Homo sapiens: one gene and its partners. The protein of the gene in region 2 interacts with the protein of the main gene of each other region in a biochemical or structural test. Each region holds a gene or a part of one and is shown on either strand. Other genes may lie near its edges. The genes, in order: DOCK4, GIPC1, RASSF6, ITGA5, LRP1 and MAP2K2.

Region 1 (3,500 bases), on a different chromosome or scaffold from region 2:
GGATGAAAACCAGACACGACCTCATTTTCTAATCCAAAGAGCATGCTTTACTTATTAATTTGGCATTATTGGGTAGAAAGAAATGCCTTTGTCATGTTTCATCACACATATTCCACTTTTCACAGGAAGCAAATGTCTTTATTTCCTGTTTAACACAGGCTTCCAACCATGTCTCCTACCTCAGAGGTTTTCAAACCATTTCAGGCTATCAATAGGGACACAGTAGGCAACAGATTACTCATTCCAGTTCTTTGTACTTGATGGTTCCAAATAAATAAACCACGCTTCTCTGGGGGTAGAAAATGATGAGTTGTATGTAGTTTTGTCCATATCATGTAACCTATAGGTTTACTTTGCAAAATATGACACTGCTTTAAAGCAAGATCTACTGATTGCCCACTTCCTTATTACAATGCTTAAGTAAAAATTTCATTCATGCCTCATATTTGGAGTTGGCCTGAACTTTTCTGAGCACAGAATTTTGAGTGAAAAGTTGGCATCGGCCAGGCGCGGTGGCTCACGCCTGTAATCCCAGCACTTTGGGAGGCTGAGGCGGGTGGATCACAAGGTCAGGAGATCGAGACCATCCTGGCTAACACAGTGAAACCCCGTCTCTACTAAAAATGCAAAAAAAATTAGCCAGGTGTGGTGGCGGGCACTTGTGGTCCCAGCTACTTGGGAGGCTGAGGCAGGAGAATGGCGTGAACCCAGGAGGCGGAGCTTGCAGTGAGCAGAGATCATGCCACTGCACTCCAGCCTGGGTGACAGAGGGAGACTCCGTCTTAAAAAAAAAAAAAAAAAAAAAAAAAAAGTTGGCATCAAGCCTACAGCAAGTCTCTAGGAAGAGAACATTCAAAGAATGTTTTAAGAGACCACATGAAGTTGTTTGTTTCACAGGTTGAACATCCCTAATACAAAAACTGAAAATCAGAAATCCTCCAAAATTTGAAGCCTTTTGAATGCCAACATCCCACAAGTGGAAAATTCCACACCCAACCTCACGTGATGGGTTGCAGTCGAAACTTCATGCACAAAATTATTAAAATATTATATAAAATGACCTTCAGGCTATGTGTATAAGATATATATGAAATAATAAATTTTGTTATTTGACTTGGGTCCCTCCCCCAAGATATCTCTTATGTATATGCAAATATTTCAAAATCTGAAACACTTATGGTCCCAAGTATTTTGGATAAAGGATACTCAACCTGTAACTGGCTGCCATAGTCTACTCATTGTTAAATTAATTTTTGCATCGGAGTGGGAAGAAGAAGTAGAAATTAGCAAGCTGGGATATATTACAGGAATCTGTCACCCTTGCTTGCCAGCTTCTGTTAGACCACTGATGCAGGAAACCATGCAGAGGGGGCTCTAGGTAAGCAAGCACATATCCAGGCAAAATAGAAGGGGGTTGGCTTCTGCTTCCCTTACCTGCTCAAGCATCAGCTCTCTTAATCGTGCAATTTTCTCCCCATCTTCAGGGTGACTTAAGATATATTCTTTGACAAAGAATGCCTAGTAAGGGAAAGGAGAATCAGTCTACTTTAGTGGAGTACAAGGCAAGTCAAAGACAAGTTGTTTTTAAAGACCTGGCATCTTTATGGAAATGACACCATTACAAACCACATTTTGGGACAGATGGGCTGATTACTAGTGTAGGTGGTTGGTCAGAATGGGAACATAAGGAAAGAATTGTTAAAGGAAGATCAGTGATTGTACAATAAGTACCCTTGCTAAAATAAAGAACAAGCCCAAATCAGTAAGCTATATGGCTTGTATCCTAAAACAAACTGCCTTAAGATTCAGTGTGACCTAGATGGTGGCCTTACCTTCCAGGGTATTATATCTTTCTGTTTAAGAGAGCAGATGAAAGGTCCACTTAAAGTATCATCTAAGCAAGATCGGTCTTATCTTTTTTTTTTTTTTTTTTTTTTTTTTTAAATAAGAGATAAGATCTTCCTATGTTGCTCAAGCTGGTCTCAAACCAAAGTGCTGGGATTACAGGTGTGAGCCACTGAGCCCAGCCCAGATCAGACTTTTCTATGCCCATGAACTTCTTTGCTTAGAGAAATTATTTTAGACGGATATTTATTAAACAGTCCTAATGTCCTTTCTACTTTTATTCATGCAAGAATGAACACACACACACACATTTTTATTATCCAAATATAACATGTTGGGAAAATGGAGTTACTGGGCAATTACAAATGACTGTATGTTTGCTCTATTTAACAAAGGACTCTGTGTCAATCGCAGCCCTATGTTTGCGTGCTGATATGGGTACATAGTCTGAAAAAAGATTCATGAAACCCTAAGAAGTCACAATTGAAAACTTTCTCTGAAACAACAATACCTAATCCTTACCTCTTGATACCTGGAAACGCCACCATTAACTGCAGCATCTATAACTCCATTCAGGCACATAGTCAGGGGATTAATATTCTGCATCTGTCTTGTCTGACACTGACTAATCAGAGTCTTCAGCTGCTGATTCTTATTTTCTAGCACTTCAATTGCATTTTCCAGAGGACTCATTTCTACCTGAGAAGCAAATGAACATAAATATATATTGAATTTGTGACATTCAAGAAGAAAGACAAAGTAGTTTATCCATGTTCTGAATTATCTGTGCTCCCCCTTGGCTTCCATCAATATCTCTACCAGGGGCCATTCCGTAGAATAGACAAGGATGTGGAAGTCAAGTGGGATGTTCATTAGCAAGGTTTGGAAAGGGCAGGTAATTATACTTATTCATTGAAATGTGGTTTGGATAATCATCAATTCTACATTAGCACTGCAACAACCAATTTAATCCTTAAAATAATATCCAAGCATCTCATGTCTTTTAAAACTAGTTTTTTTTTTCTTTTGAAGGGTTAAATATTCAGAGACCCTGAATATTATCCCCTTTCTCATGCTTATTTGATACAAAGCACCATGGGAGATATAAAGATGCATTTATGGATCCTCTGATGTCAAGGAGCTTTCAGCCCAGTTGGGAAGATGGGACATATGCCACATGAACCTCATATATATATATAACAGCACCATAAGGTGGCACAGGATGGCACACAGTTGGGAATTATAGAAAACAAGATAATATATACTGCAGGATCTATTTGTTGGAGAGCCAAATAGAATCATAATGACTTAAAAATTCCAGGCTGTATGGAGGACCTAATTGTGAAAATGATAAAAGTGCTCTTCAAATGTATGTCATTGGGACTGCTATTGCCTTGAAGAGAAGGTCTGCCAAGCTCTCAGCAATCAAGTAATTCAGGACTACAATTAGCATATTTAAATATTGGTTCATTCAGGCAAGGAAACAAATTAGAGTTTTTAAAGGTCACTTGGATCATCTTAAACCAACACTGAAAAATCCTAGAATATGAAGACTGAACATTCATCAAAGACAAAGAGAAGGGAAGATAAGCAAGAACATAGAAGATTTTGTAACATGTGTAACCATCAAAAAGCACGTGTTCAGGGTATATAAG
Region 2 (3,500 bases):
TTTGGCCTCCCAAAGCTCTGGCATGACAGGTATGGGCCACCGTGCCCGGCCTGTGACCTTCCTTAACCCTCACACCACACTGTAACACAGGGATCACGTTATGCTACAATTATGCCCATTGAACAGATGAGAAAATGGAGGCTGAAAGCGACTACGCTTCTATTTTCCTCTCAGCCACAGTCACTAACACTGTGTGCAAAAAATTTCTGACTCTCCCCCTTTGGACCAAACAGGTGGATGGCACTTCCTGGCCTCCTTGTGACTGGGCAGATAAATGATTATTTCTGGCAAATAGGTTGTGAGAGGAAGTGGCACATGACATTTCTGGGCTGAGGCATTTAAGTGCTGGAGCCTCCAGAGATCTATCTTTCCCAGGCAGGGTGATGAGCCACATTTGATATGGTGGCGACTCTATGAGGCCGGGCCCTGAATGACTACGGTGAATGGTGCCCCCTGCTGAGCCGCAATGGAAGTGTAGCAGGAAGAAAAAGCAAATCTTTGCTGAATTCAGCCACTAAGACTTTTGGGGTTGTTTTCTACACCACATACATTTTTTTTCTGTTTCTTTCTTGCTTTCTTTCTTTCTTTTTTTTTTTTTTTTTGAGACAGAGTCTTGCTCTGTCACCCAAGCAGCAGTGCAGTGGTGCGATCTCAGCTCACTGCAACCTCCGCCTCCTGGGTTCAAGCGATTCACCTGCCTCAACCTCCCAAGTAGCTGTGACTACAGAAGACTCCTGACCTCAAGTGATCCACCCGCCTCAGCCTCTTGAAGTGCTGGGATTACAGGCATGAGCCACCGCGCCCGGCCCGCTTCTTTATTTCTCTCTTTCTCCATTCTCCCCTCCCTTCAAACAATTTTTTTTTTCTTTTTAGTACTTACTGTATTCTGTGCACCATTTTAGATACTGTCTTCAATAAAAAAAGCAAGATCCCTGACTAGGGCCACCATGTTCAGTTACACAAGTTGTGTACTGTGCAAAATTACTAGACCAAGGTGGCAAGTAGGACTGAAATTCGGTCTGTGCACTGCCTGCCAAGCTATATTTCTTGGTGTGGTGTCTGCCAGGAGGAAGAGATGCCTTTCTTTTTTTCTTTTTTTTCTTTCTTTCTTTTTTTTTTTTTGAGACAGAGTCTGTTCTGTGTTGCCCAGGCTGGAGTGCAGTGGTGCAATCTTGGCTCACTGCAAGCTCCGCCTCCCAGGTTCCAGCAATTCTCCTGCCTCAGCCTCCCAGGTAGCTGGGACTACAGGTGCACGCCACCATGCCCGGCTAATTTTTTTTGTGTTTTTAGTAGAGACGGAGTTTCACTACGTTGGCCAGGCTGGTCTCGAACTCCTGACCTCGTGATTCGCTCGCCTCAGCCTCCCAAAGTGCTGGGATTACAGGCATGAGTCACTGCACCCGGCCGAAGAGATGTCTTTCTAATTCACTCACAGATGCTATATAGGCTAGCTGGGGCTCTGCACATGACCTCCAGAAGTGGACAGTCCGGAAGAGGAAATGCACAGGGAGCAGGGAAATGTGTAAATGTCTAATATAAATTTTTTCCTTTATTTTCCTTTTTTTTTTTGACAGAGTCTTGCTGTGTTGCCAAGGCTGAGGTGCAGTGGTGCAATCAGAGCTCACTGCACCCTTGCCCTCCTGGGCTCAAGTGATCCTCCCGCCCCAGCCTCTTGAGTAGCTGGGACCACAGGTGCTTGCCACCATGCCCTGCTAATTTTTTTATTTTTATTTTTTAGAGACAGGGTCTTGCTATGTTGTCCCGGCTGGTCTCAAACTCCTGGGCTCAAGTAATCCTCCTGCCATGGACTCCTAACGAGCTGGGATTATAGGCATGAGCCACTGTGCCCAGCCTCATATAATTTTTAATAGTGATATGGAGACAAAGCAAGACAAGTTCTATAGACAAGATCAGTGAGGGCGTCTCTGAGCACGTGAAGCTGAACTTGAGACCTGAACCACAGGAGGAAGCATTCATGCAATGATTTGGGGCAAGAACGTCCCAAGTAGAGAGAACAGCCAGTAGAAAGGCCCTGAGCTGGGGCTGGGCATGGTGGCTCAAGCCTGTAATCCCAGCACTTTGGGAGGTTGAGGTTGACGGATCACATGAGGTCAGCAGTTTGAGACCAGCCTGGCCTACATGGCAAAACCCCATCTCTACTAAAAATACAATACACAGGTGGGCGTGGTGGTGCACACCTGTGATCCCAGCTACTCGGGAAGCTGAGGTGGGAGAATCACTTGAATGCAGGAGGCGGAGGTTGCAGTGAGCCGAGATCACACCACTGCACTCCAGCCTGGGTGACAAACCGAGACTCCATCTCAAAAAAACAAAGAAAAGCCCTAGCCAGGCGCGGTGGCTCATGCCTGTAATCCCAGCACTTTGGAAGGCCAAGGCAGGCGGATCATGAGGTCAGGAGTTTGAGGCCAGCCTGACCAACATGGTGAAACCCCGTCTCTACTAAAAATACAAAAATTAGCCAGGTATGGTGGTGCATGCAAACCTCATCTCTACTAAAAACACAAAAATTAGCTGGGCGTAGTGGTGCATGCTTGTAATCCCAGCTACTCCTGAGGCTGAGGTTGCAGTGAGCTGAGATCACGCCATTGCACTCCAGCCTGGGCGACAGAGCGAGACTCGGTCTAAACAAAAAAAAAAAAAAGAAAGAAAAGCCAAGCCCTGAACTGGGCATGCAATTGGCATGTTTGAGGAACAGTGAGGAGGCCTGGGGGGTTGGAACAGTGAGTGAAGGGGGGATAGTGAGAACATGAGGGCAGGGAGGTAACAGGTTGCTATGTTTTCCTGATTTTTTTTTTTTAATGGGGTCTCACTCTGTCGTCCAGGCTGCAGTGGAGTGATGTGATCACAGCTCACTACAGCCTCAAATTCCTGGGCTCAAGCAATCCTCCTGTCTCAACCTCCTGAATAGCTGAGACTACAGGTGTTCACAGCCATGCCCAGCTAATTTTTATTTTTTGTAGAGACGGGTCTCACTACGTTGCCCAGATTGGTCCTGAACTCCTGGGCTCAAGCAATCCTCCCGCCTTGGCCTTCCAAAGTGCTGGGATTATAGGCATGAGCTACCACACCCAGCCTGCTATGGTTTGGATAAGGTTTGCCCCATTGAAACTCATGCTCGAACAATCGATTGGCTAACGAGGTCGATGACGCCAGGCACAAGATGCTGGGCCTACCGCGGTAGCGTGAGGGAAGCCGTGCGTTCTGTTCCAAGGCATCTGTGAGCCCATGGAGTATACACCATGAGCAAAGCTCACCCTCCTGAGTTGAAAAAATTTACGGACAAGAAGTTTTCATTGAAATTAAATGGTGGCAGACATGTCCAAGGAATATTGCGGGGATTTGATCCCTTTATGAACCTTGTGATAGATGAATGTGTGGAGATGGCGACTAGTGGACAACAGAAAAATATTGGAATGGTGGAAATACGAGGAAATAGTATCATCATGTTAGAAGCCTTGGAATGAGTATAAATAATGGCT
Region 3 (3,500 bases), on a different chromosome or scaffold from region 2:
ATTTCCCCAATCCCCCACCAGGTAATCTATCTCAATGGTTTTGTATTTATCACTCCATACCTTTCTCCCTAGTCATAAGACCATATATACCACATACTTAAATGGGAGCTTGTAACTGTTTAAAAAATGGGATCTTTTATATATACCTTTAGGCATCTTGCATTTCTCACTTAAAATATATTATGGAACTCCCTCCATTCTATTGGCATAAATCTACTCATTCCATTCAATGGCAGCCTAACAATCACTTATTTAATCATTTCCCTAGGATGAGTAACTTTGTCTTTAGCTTTTTGTCCTTATAAACAGTGTTACACATAAATCTGTAGGCACTAGTGCTTATATTTTTGTGGGATAGATTCTCACAAATGGAATGGTCAAGTTAAAGGACATATATACTGTAAATTTTAATAAATATTGCAAGAATAAATTCCAATAAGAAGAAAGTCATATTTTCACTAGTGTTGCATAAAAATATCTTTTTACCCTGATGCATGCCAGCCATGGGTAGAATCATTTTAAAGCATTTTGCCAATCTGAGAAGTGCAAGATAATATTACGGTGTGGCTTGAGCTTGCATTTCCTTAGCTACTTGCATTTCACTGAATTTAAGACTTTTCTAAAACTATTTAACTGGTTATTATGGTTTTTCCTTTCAATTGTATTTTCATGCTTTTTTCTATTTTTATCGGATTGTCTGTTGTTTTGTTACCATTTTGTAGGAAATTATTGGTATTATAGTTATTAATCTTTGGAGTACATTGACAATATTCTTTGTAATCTACTATTTGTATCTTTTAAATTGTTACACAGTCCAGTATTGCTACCATTTATTTTATATCTTTTGGTTTTCTTTCTTTCCTAAACAACTAGAATATGAATATATATGTGTCCTTAGAATTTTCCAAAAAATAGATCTTTATTTTATTTTATTTTATTTTTATTATTATTATACTTTAAGTTTTAGGGTACATGTGCACAATGTGCAGGTTAGTTACATATCTATACATGTGCCATGCTGGTGTGCTGCACCCACTAACTCGTCATCTAGCATTAGGTGTATCTCCTAATGCTATCCCTCCCCCCTCCCCCGACCCCACAACAGTCCCCAGAGTGTGATGTTCCCCTTCCTGTGTCCATGTGTTCTCATTGTTCAATTCCCACCTATGAGTGAGAATATGCGGTGTTTGGTTTTTTGTTCTTGCGATAGTTTACTAAGAATGATGATTTCCAATTTCATCCATGTCCCTACAAAGGACATGAACTCATCATTTTTTATGGATGCATAGTATTCCATGGTGTATATGTGCCACATTTTCTTAATCCAGTCTATCATTGTTGGACATTTGGGTTGCTTCCAAGTCTTTGCTATTGTGAATAATGCCGCAATAAACATACGTGTGCATGTGTCTTTATAGCAGCATGATTTATAGTCCTTTGGGTATATACCCAGTAATGGGATGGCTGGGTCAAATGGTATTTCTAGTTCTAGATCCCTGAGGAATCGCCACACTGACTTCCACAATGGTTGAACTAGTTTACAGTCCCACAAACAGTGTAAAAGTGTTCCTATTTCTCCACATCCTCTCCAGTACCTGTTGTTTCCTGACTTTTTAATGATTGCCATTCTAACTGGTGTGAGATGGTATCTCATTGTGGTTTTGATTTGCATTTCTCTGATGGCCAGTGATGGTGAGCATTTTTTCATGTGTTTTTTGGCTGCATAAATGTCTTCTTTTGAGAAGTGTCTATTCATGTCCTTTGCCCACTTTTTGATGGGGTTGTTTGTTTTTTTCTTGTAAATTTGTTTGAGTTCATTGTAGATTCTGGATATTAGCTCTTTGTCAGATGAGTAGGTTGCGAAAATTTCCTCCCATTTTGTAGGTTGCCTGTTCACTCTGATGGTAGTTTCTTTTGCTGTGCAGAAGCTCTTTAGTTTAATGAGATCCCATTTGTCAATTTTGGCTTTTGTTGCCATTGCTTTTGGTGTTTTAGACATGAAGTCCTTGCCCATGCCTATGTCCTGAATGGTAATGCCTAGGTTTTCTTCTAGGGTTTTTATGGTTTTAGGTCTAACGTTTAAGTCTTTAATTATAGATCTTTAAGCTTTCAATTATAAGAACTTTAATTTTATATATGTTTAGAGATACAGCTTTCATTTTCTTAAGGTGTTCTGGCATCAAAATGTATTATTTTATTCTAATAAATTTCTGGCTTGAACATTCTGACACTTAAATTATAGCATGAGTTTTTTCTACAAATTGATATATAAAATTTTTCATTTGTGAAGTTTTAAAAACTTTCATTTCAGTATCACTTTAAGTTTTCTCTATTCTCTCTATTATGCTCCTAGCATCCCACTTACAGCGCCTTCCCAATGTTCTGCTTCTAACCTTTCACCCCTCACCACGAAGTTCTGAATATGCATCTCTACTGAGGAAGAGATAGCACTCCCGCAATGTGTCAGACCCTGTGCTAAAAAAGAGGCAATATCAATGTCAGAGAGAACAGGTATGCAATCATGACTCCTCTAAGAGCAACACTCAGAAAGGAAAGCCAAAAAGAAAGTTACAGAGGTGAGCAAAGACAAAAGTGCCGAAACAGTTCCAGAGGGTTTTGATCTCCATTTAGATAATTTAATGTCTGGCCAACAAGCAAACTCTTTCATATAATCAACCCTTCAGGGATACCTTATTCTTAAGTTATCTTTCTTTAAAATTGTGGACTATAGATAATGTTCTAAAGACCACTCCTTCCTTTTCTCCTACCCATTCCTCCCCTTTCTCCACAGAATGAGGCAAACTGTTCTTCTGCCTTCCCCCTGGGCAGCAAACTGTAGCACTCTAGAGTCAGGTAAAAAGTGTGATCAAGCTTTCTTACCTCCTGTTGCAAAAATAATGTGAAGAGCAAAATCCTGGGGACTATTTTCAATCTGTCAAGGGAAAAAATGAACAAATATAAATTCTTTGTTGTTATATGATGTTTTCTAACCTGACCAGACCCAAATCATGTCTGTTTTCTCTCTTCCATTTTTCACTTTTAGACATAAAATCTTCTCTGCTCTTATGGGAATTATATAATTTTTCAAGGGATAGTTACTAAAAGGTGTTATACAAAGGAAAGAATCTTTCAGTGCTCAACATCCAATTTAGATTTACACCTTTATAGATCTGTTTCAGAAGAGTGGATTTGTGTGTTTATAGTTGAATTATATATAATATATTTATAGCTCAGTTAAGTGATAAAGGTTACCTTAAATTTTTGGAGAAGTTGCTTTATTACTTCTTCAGTTCTCATGTTACTGTTTACTCTGACCTTAGTTTCTGATTCAAAGGCTGGAATGAAAATTGATGTCTAGAAAAAGAATTGTCACATAAGTCTTTAAAATTATATTATATTAAGGGTATTCAATATCTTGAACATAATCTTCTTATAGGGCAAAAAAAATCCAAGGTCATTAATTTAAAAAATTTGTTTTGTTTTTGTTTGTTTTTCTTTGT
Region 4 (3,500 bases), on a different chromosome or scaffold from region 2:
GGATTGAACCTTCTAGTTCTGACCCAGCGCTGCCCCTTTGTCCTCCCCAGATGGCCTCCTACTTTGGCTATGCAGTGGCCGCCACAGACGTCAATGGGGACGGGTGAGTGGTGGGAAATGAGCGCACTGTGATACCCTCCCAGAACCAAGAGGGAAGAGTGGGAATGGGACAGAAAATGCAAGGAGAGTTTCTCCAGGGCTTTTTCTCTAGACTCTCGCTCATACCTGCATTCCCCTTGCTCAGGGACAAGGAAAGAGCTGAGAGCTGATGATCAGAGACCTCAGGTCTTCTGACGTGATGGAATTCAGAGTGTCCGGGATTTCTAGCACTAGGATTGGGGTGGGGTGGCAAGACAGGGTATCGAGATGCCTGGGTTTGCCCTTCCCCTCAGGCTGGATGACTTGCTGGTGGGGGCACCCCTGCTCATGGATCGGACCCCTGACGGGCGGCCTCAGGAGGTGGGCAGGGTCTACGTCTACCTGCAGCACCCAGCCGGCATAGAGCCCACGCCCACCCTTACCCTCACTGGCCATGATGAGTTTGGCCGATTTGGCAGCTCCTTGACCCCCCTGGGGGACCTGGACCAGGATGGCTACAATGGTGAGTACCATGGGCTCAGAGAGTGAAAGAGGAGGCAGGGGCCCAAGTCAGAAGGGATTTGGGGAGAGGGCATCTGTCAGCTAAGATACCCAGACCTCCACGACTTCCCGAGGGGTTAAAATCCCACTGTCTGGGTCTTGGGATTTGAAGATTAGAATATAGGGACTGACAGATGGGAAAAAATAGGATCCTAGGTCCTGGGGTCTGGTAGTAGAGATTAGAGCCCATGGATTCCTGGCCTGCTGACTAGTGTGTGTTCTGTGTCTTCCAGATGTGGCCATCGGGGCTCCCTTTGGTGGGGAGACCCAGCAGGGAGTAGTGTTTGTATTTCCTGGGGGCCCAGGAGGGCTGGGCTCTAAGCCTTCCCAGGTTCTGCAGCCCCTGTGGGCAGCCAGCCACACCCCAGACTTCTTTGGCTCTGCCCTTCGAGGAGGCCGAGACCTGGATGGCAATGGATATCCTGGTGAGTTGTGCCTGAGGCCCCTTTTCACCTTAAAATTCCCTGGTCACTGACCCCTACTCTCTCTTCTGCACCTTTCCTTAAGTTCCTGGGTGCAGTTCTGGCTAATTCCAACAGAGGGCGCTGTCTTCTCACTTCAACCTCCCTGAGCGTTGAAACCAGGAGGGGTTAGGAAGAAAGGATCCTGATCTGGGGCTTGCTGTAAGAGGTGATTTCTTGACTTCTTACAGATCTGATTGTGGGGTCCTTTGGTGTGGACAAGGCTGTGGTATACAGGTATGAGCTCCAAAGGGAGATGAGGGGACAACCTGGGTGGACTGGAACTGGAAATTTCTCAACAGAGCTGAGGTTGGGAAAATCAATGCAGAGGACACACATTCTGGCGCTTGGGCATCAGTTTCCTGTGTCCAGGTTACAGAGGAGTCCTAATTCTATTGACCCCACATTCACTCTTGGCAGGGGCCGCCCCATCGTGTCCGCTAGTGCCTCCCTCACCATCTTCCCCGCCATGTTCAACCCAGAGGAGCGGAGCTGCAGCTTAGAGGGGAACCCTGTGGCCTGGTGAGCTGGTGCCCAGGAAATTGCAGAGACCTGAGCCTGGGAGTGGGCAGGGGCACCAAGTCTGCCTTAAAAAGGGGAAAATGGTGGTGTCCTAGTCTGGGTCTGGCTGGGAGATAGGTAGAGGATAGGATGTCTGTTCCAGTTGGATTCACCAGCTTTCTTCTTGGTCTCTCTCCAGCATCAACCTTAGCTTCTGCCTCAATGCTTCTGGAAAACACGTTGCTGACTCCATTGGTGAGGGAGACTGCCTGGATCTCTCAGGCCCTAGGACAGAGAATGAAGGGACTGGGGACCTGGGGACATTTCTTCTCTCTGAAAAGATGAGGAAAGACAGGCAGTTTCCCTTTATATGTCCCTGGCTTCAGGTTTCACAGTGGAACTTCAGCTGGACTGGCAGAAGCAGAAGGGAGGGGTACGGCGGGCACTGTTCCTGGCCTCCAGGCAGGCAACCCTGACCCAGACCCTGCTCATCCAGAATGGGGCTCGAGAGGATTGCAGAGAGATGAAGATCTACCTCAGGGTATGGCCCAGAGGGCGGGGTGTGGACTGGCCAGGGAGGGTGGCCACACAGAACTGAGGGCACCTCCTGAAGGGAAAAAGACTGGGGGACTCCAGTGAAGGGCTTGGGACTCTTGTAGGGGCTGAGAAAGGGAGACCTTCTGTCAGAGGAGCTGGGAAGCAGGCTGCCAGGGCCTCTGAAACAATGAGGATGGTCGGAATTGGGCCCTAAGCAGACAAAGGGAGATGAGAGAGGCTGAGGAGCAGGGCCACTAAGTCTCCAGAGTCCCCTGACTCCGTGAACTCTCTCCTCTGGCCCCAGAACGAGTCAGAATTTCGAGACAAACTCTCGCCGATTCACATCGCTCTCAACTTCTCCTTGGACCCCCAAGCCCCAGTGGACAGCCACGGCCTCAGGCCAGCCCTACATTATCAGAGCAAGAGCCGGATAGAGGACAAGGTGAGGACAGGGCAGGGAGAAGGGACCTGGGAAGACAGAGGCCTGGGTATTGGGGGGGCAGGGCCATGGAAAGAGAAGAGCCTACAGCCCAGGAATGGGTCTAAACTTCCCCTCTCAAGGCTGCCCTGCTCCCCAGGCTCAGATCTTGCTGGACTGTGGAGAAGACAACATCTGTGTGCCTGACCTGCAGCTGGAAGTGTTTGGGTAAGTAGGGCTGACGGTAAGCTAGGGAGCTCCAGGTGCACCTGGCACCTGAAAAAATCAGCTAGGGACATACTAGCTGTGTCGCCTTGGGAAGTTGCTGAGCTGCTCTGAGCTTTAACTCCTTTGTCTGTATAGTGGGAATAGTAGCATTTATTTCTCAGACTTTTTGGAAAGATTAAATGAAATAATCTACATAAAAAATCTAGCCTAGTGCCTGCCATAGAGTTAGAACTCAGTAAGCAGTGTCTATTGTTACTTTATTATTACTCTTTTTTTTTTTTTGAGACGGAGTCATGCCCTTGTCACCCAGGCTGGAGTGCAGTGGCGCAATCTCGGCTCACTGCAACCTCCGCCTCCCAGGTTCAAGCGATTCTCTGCCTCAGCGTCCCAAGTAGCTGGGATTACAGGTGCCTGCCACCATGCCGGGCTAATTTTTTTATTATTATTTTTAGTAGAGACAGGGTTTCATCATCTTGGCCAGGCTTGTCTTGAACTCCTGACCTCGTGATCCACCCGCCTCAGCCTCCCAAAGTGCTGGGATTACAGGTGTGAGCCACCACACCCGGCCTCGTATTACTACTCTTATAATGGTCCTTTGTCCTGGTTTGAGGATTAATTCACCAATGTCCCTTACCCTCTGTGTCCCTTCCAGGGAGCAGAACCATGTGTACCTGGGTGACAAGAATGCCCTGAACCTCACTTTCCATGCCCAGAAT
Region 5 (3,500 bases), on a different chromosome or scaffold from region 2:
AGAGAATGAGGGCCCTCCCTTACACCTGCCACTCCAGTTCACCATCACTGTCTTCTCTCTCTTCCAAGCCCTGGCCTTGGTCCTGCCAGCAACTTCTTCGGAGGAAGGAACAGTTTATCCCCAGTTTTGGTGCTTTTTGTTTTCTGGATCTCTATGTCTCTATATCATGCATGATGATTTTTATGAGCAAAGCAAGTTACACCCAATATAATTTGTGTTGCCCATCTACTAAAGTTATTTGAGAGCCTCTCAAAGCTGTGGGGAGATTCTGCCTGCCCTGCTTCCGTGTCATCTCCCACCACCGGCCCACCACCACCTCTGACACTCACGGCAGTCCCTCTCATCCTCCCCATCTCCGCAGTTGTCCTGCCCATTGCAGCGGAAGATGCCGGGAATACAGCGGTTGGTGTTGGTGCATTTGAACTGACTGGGCAAGCAGACGTGGATGTCTGTGGAGGGAGGAGGAGGTGATTCGTGGCGAAGGGAGGACTCAGGGGCAGGGAGAGGGTGCCCATCCCTCAGCAGGGAGGACACAGGCTTGAGCCATAGGAATCCAGCCTGGAGAGCAAGCTGCCGTGGGCTGCAACTTCCCTGCACTTGAAAGCCCCAAATCCTGGGGCAGGGAAGATGCTGGGGAAGGAGGGAGGGTGGGCGGGCAGCGCCTTACCACAGTTGGCCTCGTCACTGTTGTCCTGGCAGTCATTGTCGCCATCGCAGATGAAGGCAGGGTTTGTGCAGATACCTGTGGAGCACTGGAACTGTCCGGGCCGGCACTTGAACTCAGCTGCCAGAGAGGGAGGCTCAGAGTCAGAGCGGCTGGGGTGGACACGGCCAGGTCCACTTGCAGGGCACCACAGCCCCAGCCTCTCCAGTGGCCATTCAAAGCCTCAGGAGTCAGGCCTCCGACACAGCTGGGGGCCCTCCTGTCACCCCCAGCAGGCACTCACGGCAGTCCGGGGGCTCGTCTGAGTGGTCCCCGCAGTCGTCCTCGGTGTCACACTTCCACCAGAAGGGGATGCACTTGTCGTTCTTGCATACAAACTGGAGGGCAGGTGGGGGCAAGAGGGGTTGGTGGGGGTCTGGGGGACTCAGAAGTCTTTCTTTTGAGGGGCTTGGATGTTTCAAAGAAGTTGAGGCAGGGGTCAGGGTGTTATGGGGCAGGTTGGGCTATGGTGAGTTCGGAAAGGCCAGGTATGGGGCTGCGTGGGATAGGGTGGGGAAGGCAGCACTGAAGCATGGCAAGGAGGGTCAAGGTTAGGGTGTGGAGGTGTCTGTGTGAGGTGACGGGGGTAAAAGTATTGCTGTGGGGAGACAAGAGGTAGGCAAGAAATGTGGGGGTGTTAGTGTGGGAAAACCAGATGCATGAGGACATTAGGACAGAGCAGGTGTTGGGGTCCAAGGAGGATTTGGGGGTTGGGGAGCGGGCACTGGTGATGGGGTCTGGGGGACAGCCTCACCTGGCTAGCCGTGCAGTTGGACACACAGGTGCGCCCATCGCTGCCCAGGTAGAAGTTGGTGGGGCAGGCACATTTGTGCCCTCCCCCGGGGGACAGCAGGCACAGGTTGCTGCAGCCACCATTGTTGACCTTGCAGGGGTGATTGGGCACTGCCAGAGAAAACGTCGTGAAATATGGTGACATTTTCTGGCCTACCAAAGGCTGCCTCACTCACTCTATCCTGGACAGAGGCGGGTGGGTCTGAACCCTGCCTCTTTTAGGAGGGAGCTGAAGCTGGAGATAGGAGAGGATTCTAAGGTCCCAGGATCAGGCCAGGCCTGAAGGCCAGCTCCCCACCTCCTCTGTGCTTCCCTCCCAGGGGCCGGCCTGCCTTCCTTCTGGGGGCTGGGCACCCAGACCCCCACTTGACTGGCCTCAGGGACTTGCTGCTGCCAGACTCCAGGGCTGGATCCAGGCCGGGCTGAAGCTCCCGGGAGCCAGACCATCCCCTGTCTAGACCCTCCTGGAGTCTCCCAGTGTCTGGCCAGGAGGGCTTGGTCAATGCTAGAGAAGGGATGAGCAGGAACTCCCAGGGACCCCGGTGCCTGGCTCACCGTTCGCCTGCTCCCACCCCTTGCCTGCTCACCGTCTGGCTGGCGCAGGGCATGGAAGACATGCAGGTCCATGGGCCGGTGCAGCGTGCTGATGAGGAGCGTTTTGTTGGTGCCCGTGGTCTTGTGGGCTCGGTTAATGGACTTTGTTTCCCAGTCGGTCCAGTAGACGTAGTCCTCAAACAGGGTCAGTGCAAAGATGTGCGGGATGTCCTGGCTCAGCACTGCAGGGCCAAGGGGCAGGCACAGTGCCAGTCAGCCGGAGCTCGGACAGGGTGCCGGCCCACTCCACCTCCTCAAGCCCTACCACCACCCTGAGAGGTGGGTGTCAGCCCCAGTTACAGATGGTTCATGGTACAGACCCCCCATGGTCTCACAGCTAACAAGTGTCAGAGCTGGAGTTCAAACCTAGACTGCCTCATGGCAAGTTCCTGCCCTGCCAGTGTATGGCTCCCCTCGGGAAGTGGGGAGCACTGCAGTTCTCAATCGCAGGCCTCCCACCCCCACCCTCCTTGGGGCCAGTCCTCCAGAACTGTGTATACAAGGGAAGGGCCTCTCCTCTTCCTTCCCAAGGGAGCTGGGTGGTGGCCAGGCTGGGGAAGCCCCCGGGGTGCTCTGAACCCCACACCCCAGTGAGTGGTGTCCTCAGGCCATATCCTCCGCTTTTTATGTCCACTCTTGCCCCCAAAACTTGATCCCCTGTCGCTTCAGACCTCCATCCCCACTGAGTCTGCTGTGCCTGGACAGCCTCACTGGCACACTGACCAACGTGGCGATTGGAGCCATCCAGGCTGGCAAATTCAATGTAGTCCTCGCGGGCGTCGGCCCAGTAGATGCGCTCAGTGACATAGTCCAGCGTCAGGCCATTGGGCCATGTGATCTTGGTGTCCACGATGACGCTGCGGCTGGACCCATCCATGCCGATGCGGCCGATCAGTGAATGGTCACCCCAGTCTGTCCAGTACAGGTACCTGGCGATGGGTAGGCAGTGAGCCCTGGGAGATCCCGTAACCCATCGCACCAGTGGCCTGCAGGGAGGCTGGGCTTGGATGCTGCTTTCAGGGGCTCCCCCAACCCTCCTCAGCCACATACCCATTCTGCACATCCACCACCAGAGCCCTGGGCTCACGGAGGCCAGAGCTGACCAGCACCGTCCGATAGGCCCCATTGAGCTTGGACACCTCGATGGTGTCCCGGCCTTTGTCGCACCAGTACAGGTTGCCACCCACCCAGTCCACAGCCAGCCCATCGGGGTTGCTGAGGCCTGTACGGTGTAGGACCTGCAGGAAGGGGCAGGGGAGGGAGAGCTCTGGGTGACCTGGGGGAGGACCTGCAAGCCTCTGTGAGGCTCAGCCTCCCCTCGTGTAAAATGGGGTAGAGCTCCCTCTGACAGCTCTGGTGGGAGAACCATGGAAGTAAAATGCCCAGTCCTGGGCCTGACACTGTGTAGGTG
Region 6 (3,500 bases), about 10 Mb from region 2:
GTAGTCCCAGCTACTCGGGAGGCTGAGGCAGGAGAATGGTGTGAATCCGGGAGGCGGAGCTTGCAGTGAGCGGAGATGGCGCCACTGCACTCCAGCCTGGGTGAGAGTGTGAGACTGTGTCTCAAAAAACAACAACAACAACAAAAACAAAAACCAAATTACCCAGCTGTGGTGGCACATGCCTGTAGCCCCAGCTGCTTGGAAGGCTGAGGCAGGAGAATTGCTCCCGGGTGGGAGGCGGAGGTTGCAATGAGCCAAGATTGTGCCATTGCACTCCAGCCTGGGTGACAGAGCAAGACTCTGTCTCAAAAAAAAAAAAAAAAAAAAAAAAAAGAAAGAAACCTGGTAGGCACTGCTAGAGACAAAAACCTAAGAGAGAATTCCAACAGGAAGGGGAGATCTGGCCGGGCGTGGTGGCTCAGGCTCACTGCTAGTGGAATCCCAGCACTTTGGGAGGCTGAGGAAAGAAGGTCACTTGAGTCCAGGAGTTCATGAGCAGCCTGGGCAATACAGCGAGACCCCGTGTCTACAAAAGATTAGTAAATTAACAAATAAAAAATAAAGAGCAAGGGGAATCCGAAAAGCAGGCTCCCAGGAGGCACCAGCTTTAGACGTGCCTTGTGGCAAGTGGGGAGAGCTGATGAAGGGGAGGGTGCAGCTGGGGTGGGACTGTCCCGGGGGTGCTAACAGCCATGTAGGAGTGTGTGCCCACGAAATAGTTGGGAAAGCCTCGTGGGAGGCGGGGAGAGCTGCGCAGGAGAACTGGGAGGGACAGCTGCGCAGGAGACATGGGGGTGAGAGCTGAGGGGGAGAGCTGGCTGGCAGAGCTGGGTGGGGAGAGCTTGGGGGAGAGCAGCAGGGAGGAGAGCTGGAGGGGAGAGCCAGCGGGGACTCACAGCCATGTAGGAGCGCGTGCCCACGAAGGAGTTGGCCATGGAGTCGATGAGCTGGCCGCTCACCCCGAAGTCACACAGCTTGATCTCCCCTCTAGAGTTCACGAGGATGTTGGAGGGCTTCACATCTGGAGGCGGCAGGCTGCGGGTGAGGGGCGCCCAACAGTTGCCTGCCGGCCCCCGGGGCTCTGGGGAGGGCGGGCTGGGCCTTACCTCGGTGCATGATCTGGTGCTTCTCTCGGAGGTACGCCAAGCCCCGGAGAACCTGCAGGGGAGCGCGGAGGGAGTCACGGGACAAGGCCACCAGGGCTTAGCTCCTGACCGAGCCCGGGGGTCAGAGCTGAGCAGTCAGAGCTGGAGCGAGGGAGCTGCGGCAGGAACCATTTCAGGCTGTGAGGAGCTCGCTGGGGTGGAGCAAGCGAGGCCAGAGACGAGACAGTGCTGACAGCCCTGTGCTGGCGTGTGCAAGTCAACCCCGGTTCCCATGGCCGCAGTGCCGCCGATGCCACTACTGCCTTTGATTCAGAGCACACGGCTTAGCCCCAGGGAAGCTGAGATGGTGGCCCATGGCCCGGGAGTAGGCTGGGCTGCCGAGTTTGCCCACATCAGCCTGAAAGGCAGCATCTGGGGTCCCAGGGACTGTGCTAAGGGCCCCCAGATGGGACGGGCTAAGGGTGCCTGGGAAGGACGATGTTTCCCCCAGGCCCGCCCTGGAAGCAGCATCCCGAGAAGTGAAGCAAGCAGCACAGGCAGTGTGACGGCAGCTTTCAACTCGGAAACGCGTGTCTGGCAGCATGCGTCCTGTGTCTTAATCCAACACTGGTATGGGCAGGCGGGACTCGGCCCCTGCTATGGACAAGGTGCAAGCTCCAAGAAGCAACACGCACGGTCTGCTGAAACCACACGGCTCTACGGAGCAGCTGTGCTGGAGACCGGGCAGCAGAGACGCCCTTGGCCCCGGTGACATTTCTAACAGCAATGGTGAGTGTGTCTGGAGGTCCTGGCGTCCCACATCCCACCCCAGAGTCTCCCTTTCAACAAGCTCCTGTCCCCTGCAACGTGCCAGCTGCCAACATCCCCCTGCCACGAGGGGCAGAGGGGACCAGTGTGGCAAACAGAGGATACTAAGAGTGAAGAGGGACCTATAACGTCTTCACTTGGCAGATGGTGACCTCAGGCCCCAAAAGGGACGTCACTTGTTCAAGCTCCACAGCAGGTGGGCACAGCCTTGGCCACTCTCTTTCTGCAGGGGCCACCCTAACCCCCACCACACTGTGAGTGGCTCCCGGAACCCTGGCCGTGTGGAAGAGGTCCGTGCAGAGTGCGGTGGGGGCGCGATGTGGGTCTGCGGTGGACTCACCGCGATGCTGACTTTCCCCAGGATCTCCTCGGGAATCCTCTTGGCCTCTTTCAGCACCTGGTCCAGGGAGCCGCCGTCCTAGAGGGCACACAAGGAGTGAGTGCAGGCTCTGCGCAGGTGGCCGGGAAGCCACGGATGCGTCCCCCCACTCCCGGCGAGGGGGTGGTCTGCCTCCTGACGGGAAGCAGGGGCCGGAGCCCAACTCCACCCACGGGCCAAGGGCAGGGCGTCTTCTGACAGTTCTGCCTTTGGGTCTGAACACCCACCCACAAGGTGGGGAAGGAACAGGGCCCAGGGTTCCCCCGCCTCCCGTCCCATCCTCGAATCAGTTGCGTGACTCGGCCCTCCTGAGGTCGCCACGGCAGAGGCTCTGCTCCGGGCCAGCCCAAGCCGCGGCCGGGGGCTCAGGCAGCTGTGGGGCCCGCACTCCCTGCAGCCTACGTGGTGGGCTTGTCTGTGCGCCACGGGAGGCGGCCAGGCTGGAGACCAGCGTCTTGGGCCTGCGTCCTCTTCCCAGCACACGAAGGGAAGGGGAGGGTGAGGGCGCGGAGGAGACGCGGGTGCTGCCCCGCGTGGGAGGAGGCGGCGGGTCGCTGTGTGCCCGTCCAGACCCCCAGGGGGCTCCCTCGCCAAGCCCTGCGGCTCCACTGCTGGGCGTCTGCCCTGCGCCTGTCCCTGCCACCTAGGGCAGAAAGGCCAGGCCGAGTAGGACCAGGGGCCAGGGGGTGCATGGACTGCAGGAGGGATCCCAGTGACGCCAGCCCAGGTGACGGTAACCTCGGCCCCTCCCCACAGCCTGTGGTCTCCTCGCCACTGTGCCGGGCATCCTGCGGAGGGCCTGGAAACGAGTCATCATGGGTAGGCTGGTCCCCGGGTGTGGCCCCACATCCATGTCATAAATGATGAAACAGAAATTCCATGTCTTGCCCAAGGCTGCCTGGCAACAAACCTGGGGACCAAAACCCCCAAATGCCAAAACCCCAGGCACTGGGAGCCACCCAAGGTGCCTCTTCAGAGGCAGAGGCTCCGGACACACCTGCCAGGCCACCCCCAGGACAGCAGGGGTGACAGGCCAAGTTCCCACTGCCACCGTCTGGCGTGCGTCTCTTCTGTGCTCAGCAGAGAGGAAAGTGGAACTGAGGCTAGAGAGGGCGGGCTGGAGGAGCCTGGAGAGGCTGGCTGGGGAGCCTGGATTTCCCCACCATGCTGCTCCAGGACTCCTGCAAAAGCCCAGCCTTCCCTGGGAT

Evidence for each region.
Region 1: the proteins of GIPC1 (region 2) and DOCK4 interact in a test that uses a peptide from one of them, tested with the Homo sapiens proteins (one large-scale study listed by IntAct).
Region 3: the proteins of GIPC1 (region 2) and RASSF6 interact in a test that uses a peptide from one of them, tested with the Homo sapiens proteins (one large-scale study listed by IntAct).
Region 4: the proteins of GIPC1 (region 2) and ITGA5 form a complex in vitro, tested with the Homo sapiens proteins (one study listed by BioGRID).
Region 5: the proteins of GIPC1 (region 2) and LRP1 form a complex in vitro, tested with the Homo sapiens proteins (one study listed by BioGRID).
Region 6: the proteins of GIPC1 (region 2) and MAP2K2 interact in a test that uses a peptide from one of them, tested with the Homo sapiens proteins (one large-scale study listed by IntAct).

What each region holds. Positions count from the first base shown.
Region 1 is NC_000007.14:111,744,900-111,748,399, forward strand, and holds part of DOCK4 (dedicator of cytokinesis protein 4), read right to left. Parts: intron 2,545-3,500; coding exon 2,368-2,544; intron 1,519-2,367; coding exon 1,435-1,518; intron 1-1,434. UniProt on the Homo sapiens protein: Functions as a guanine nucleotide exchange factor (GEF) that promotes the exchange of GDP to GTP, converting inactive GDP-bound small GTPases into their active GTP-bound form. Involved in regulation of adherens junction between cells.
Region 2 is NC_000019.10:14,486,128-14,489,627, forward strand, and holds part of GIPC1 (PDZ domain-containing protein GIPC1), read right to left. Parts: intron 1-3,500. UniProt on the Homo sapiens protein: May be involved in G protein-linked signaling.
Region 3 is NC_000004.12:73,578,937-73,582,436, forward strand, and holds part of RASSF6 (ras association domain-containing protein 6), read right to left. Parts: intron 3,355-3,500; coding exon 3,253-3,354; intron 2,933-3,252; coding exon 2,881-2,932; intron 1-2,880.
Region 4 is NC_000012.12:54,402,267-54,405,766, reverse strand, and holds part of ITGA5 (integrin alpha-5 precursor), read left to right. Parts: intron 1-50; coding exon 51-103; intron 104-392; coding exon 393-601; intron 602-872; coding exon 873-1,064; intron 1,065-1,193; exon of another isoform or gene 1,194-1,269; intron 1,270-1,291; coding exon 1,292-1,337; intron 1,338-1,520; coding exon 1,521-1,622; intron 1,623-1,800; coding exon 1,801-1,856; intron 1,857-1,987; coding exon 1,988-2,142; intron 2,143-2,442; coding exon 2,443-2,580; intron 2,581-2,716; coding exon 2,717-2,784; intron 2,785-3,436; coding exon 3,437-3,500.
Region 5 is NC_000012.12:57,197,983-57,201,482, reverse strand, and holds part of LRP1 (prolow-density lipoprotein receptor-related protein 1 preproprotein), read right to left. Parts: intron 3,328-3,500; coding exon 3,140-3,327; intron 3,019-3,139; coding exon 2,813-3,018; intron 2,272-2,812; coding exon 2,083-2,271; intron 1,607-2,082; coding exon 1,458-1,606; intron 1,042-1,457; coding exon 948-1,041; intron 785-947; coding exon 668-784; intron 450-667; coding exon 330-449; intron 1-329. UniProt on the Homo sapiens protein: Endocytic receptor involved in endocytosis and in phagocytosis of apoptotic cells. Required for early embryonic development. Involved in cellular lipid homeostasis.
Region 6 is NC_000019.10:4,100,123-4,103,622, forward strand, and holds part of MAP2K2 (dual specificity mitogen-activated protein kinase kinase 2), read right to left. Parts: intron 3,085-3,500; exon of another isoform or gene 2,695-3,084; intron 2,332-2,694; coding exon 2,254-2,331; intron 1,159-2,253; coding exon 1,107-1,158; intron 1,022-1,106; coding exon 897-1,021; intron 1-896. UniProt on the Homo sapiens protein: Catalyzes the concomitant phosphorylation of a threonine and a tyrosine residue in a Thr-Glu-Tyr sequence located in MAP kinases. Activates the ERK1 and ERK2 MAP kinases.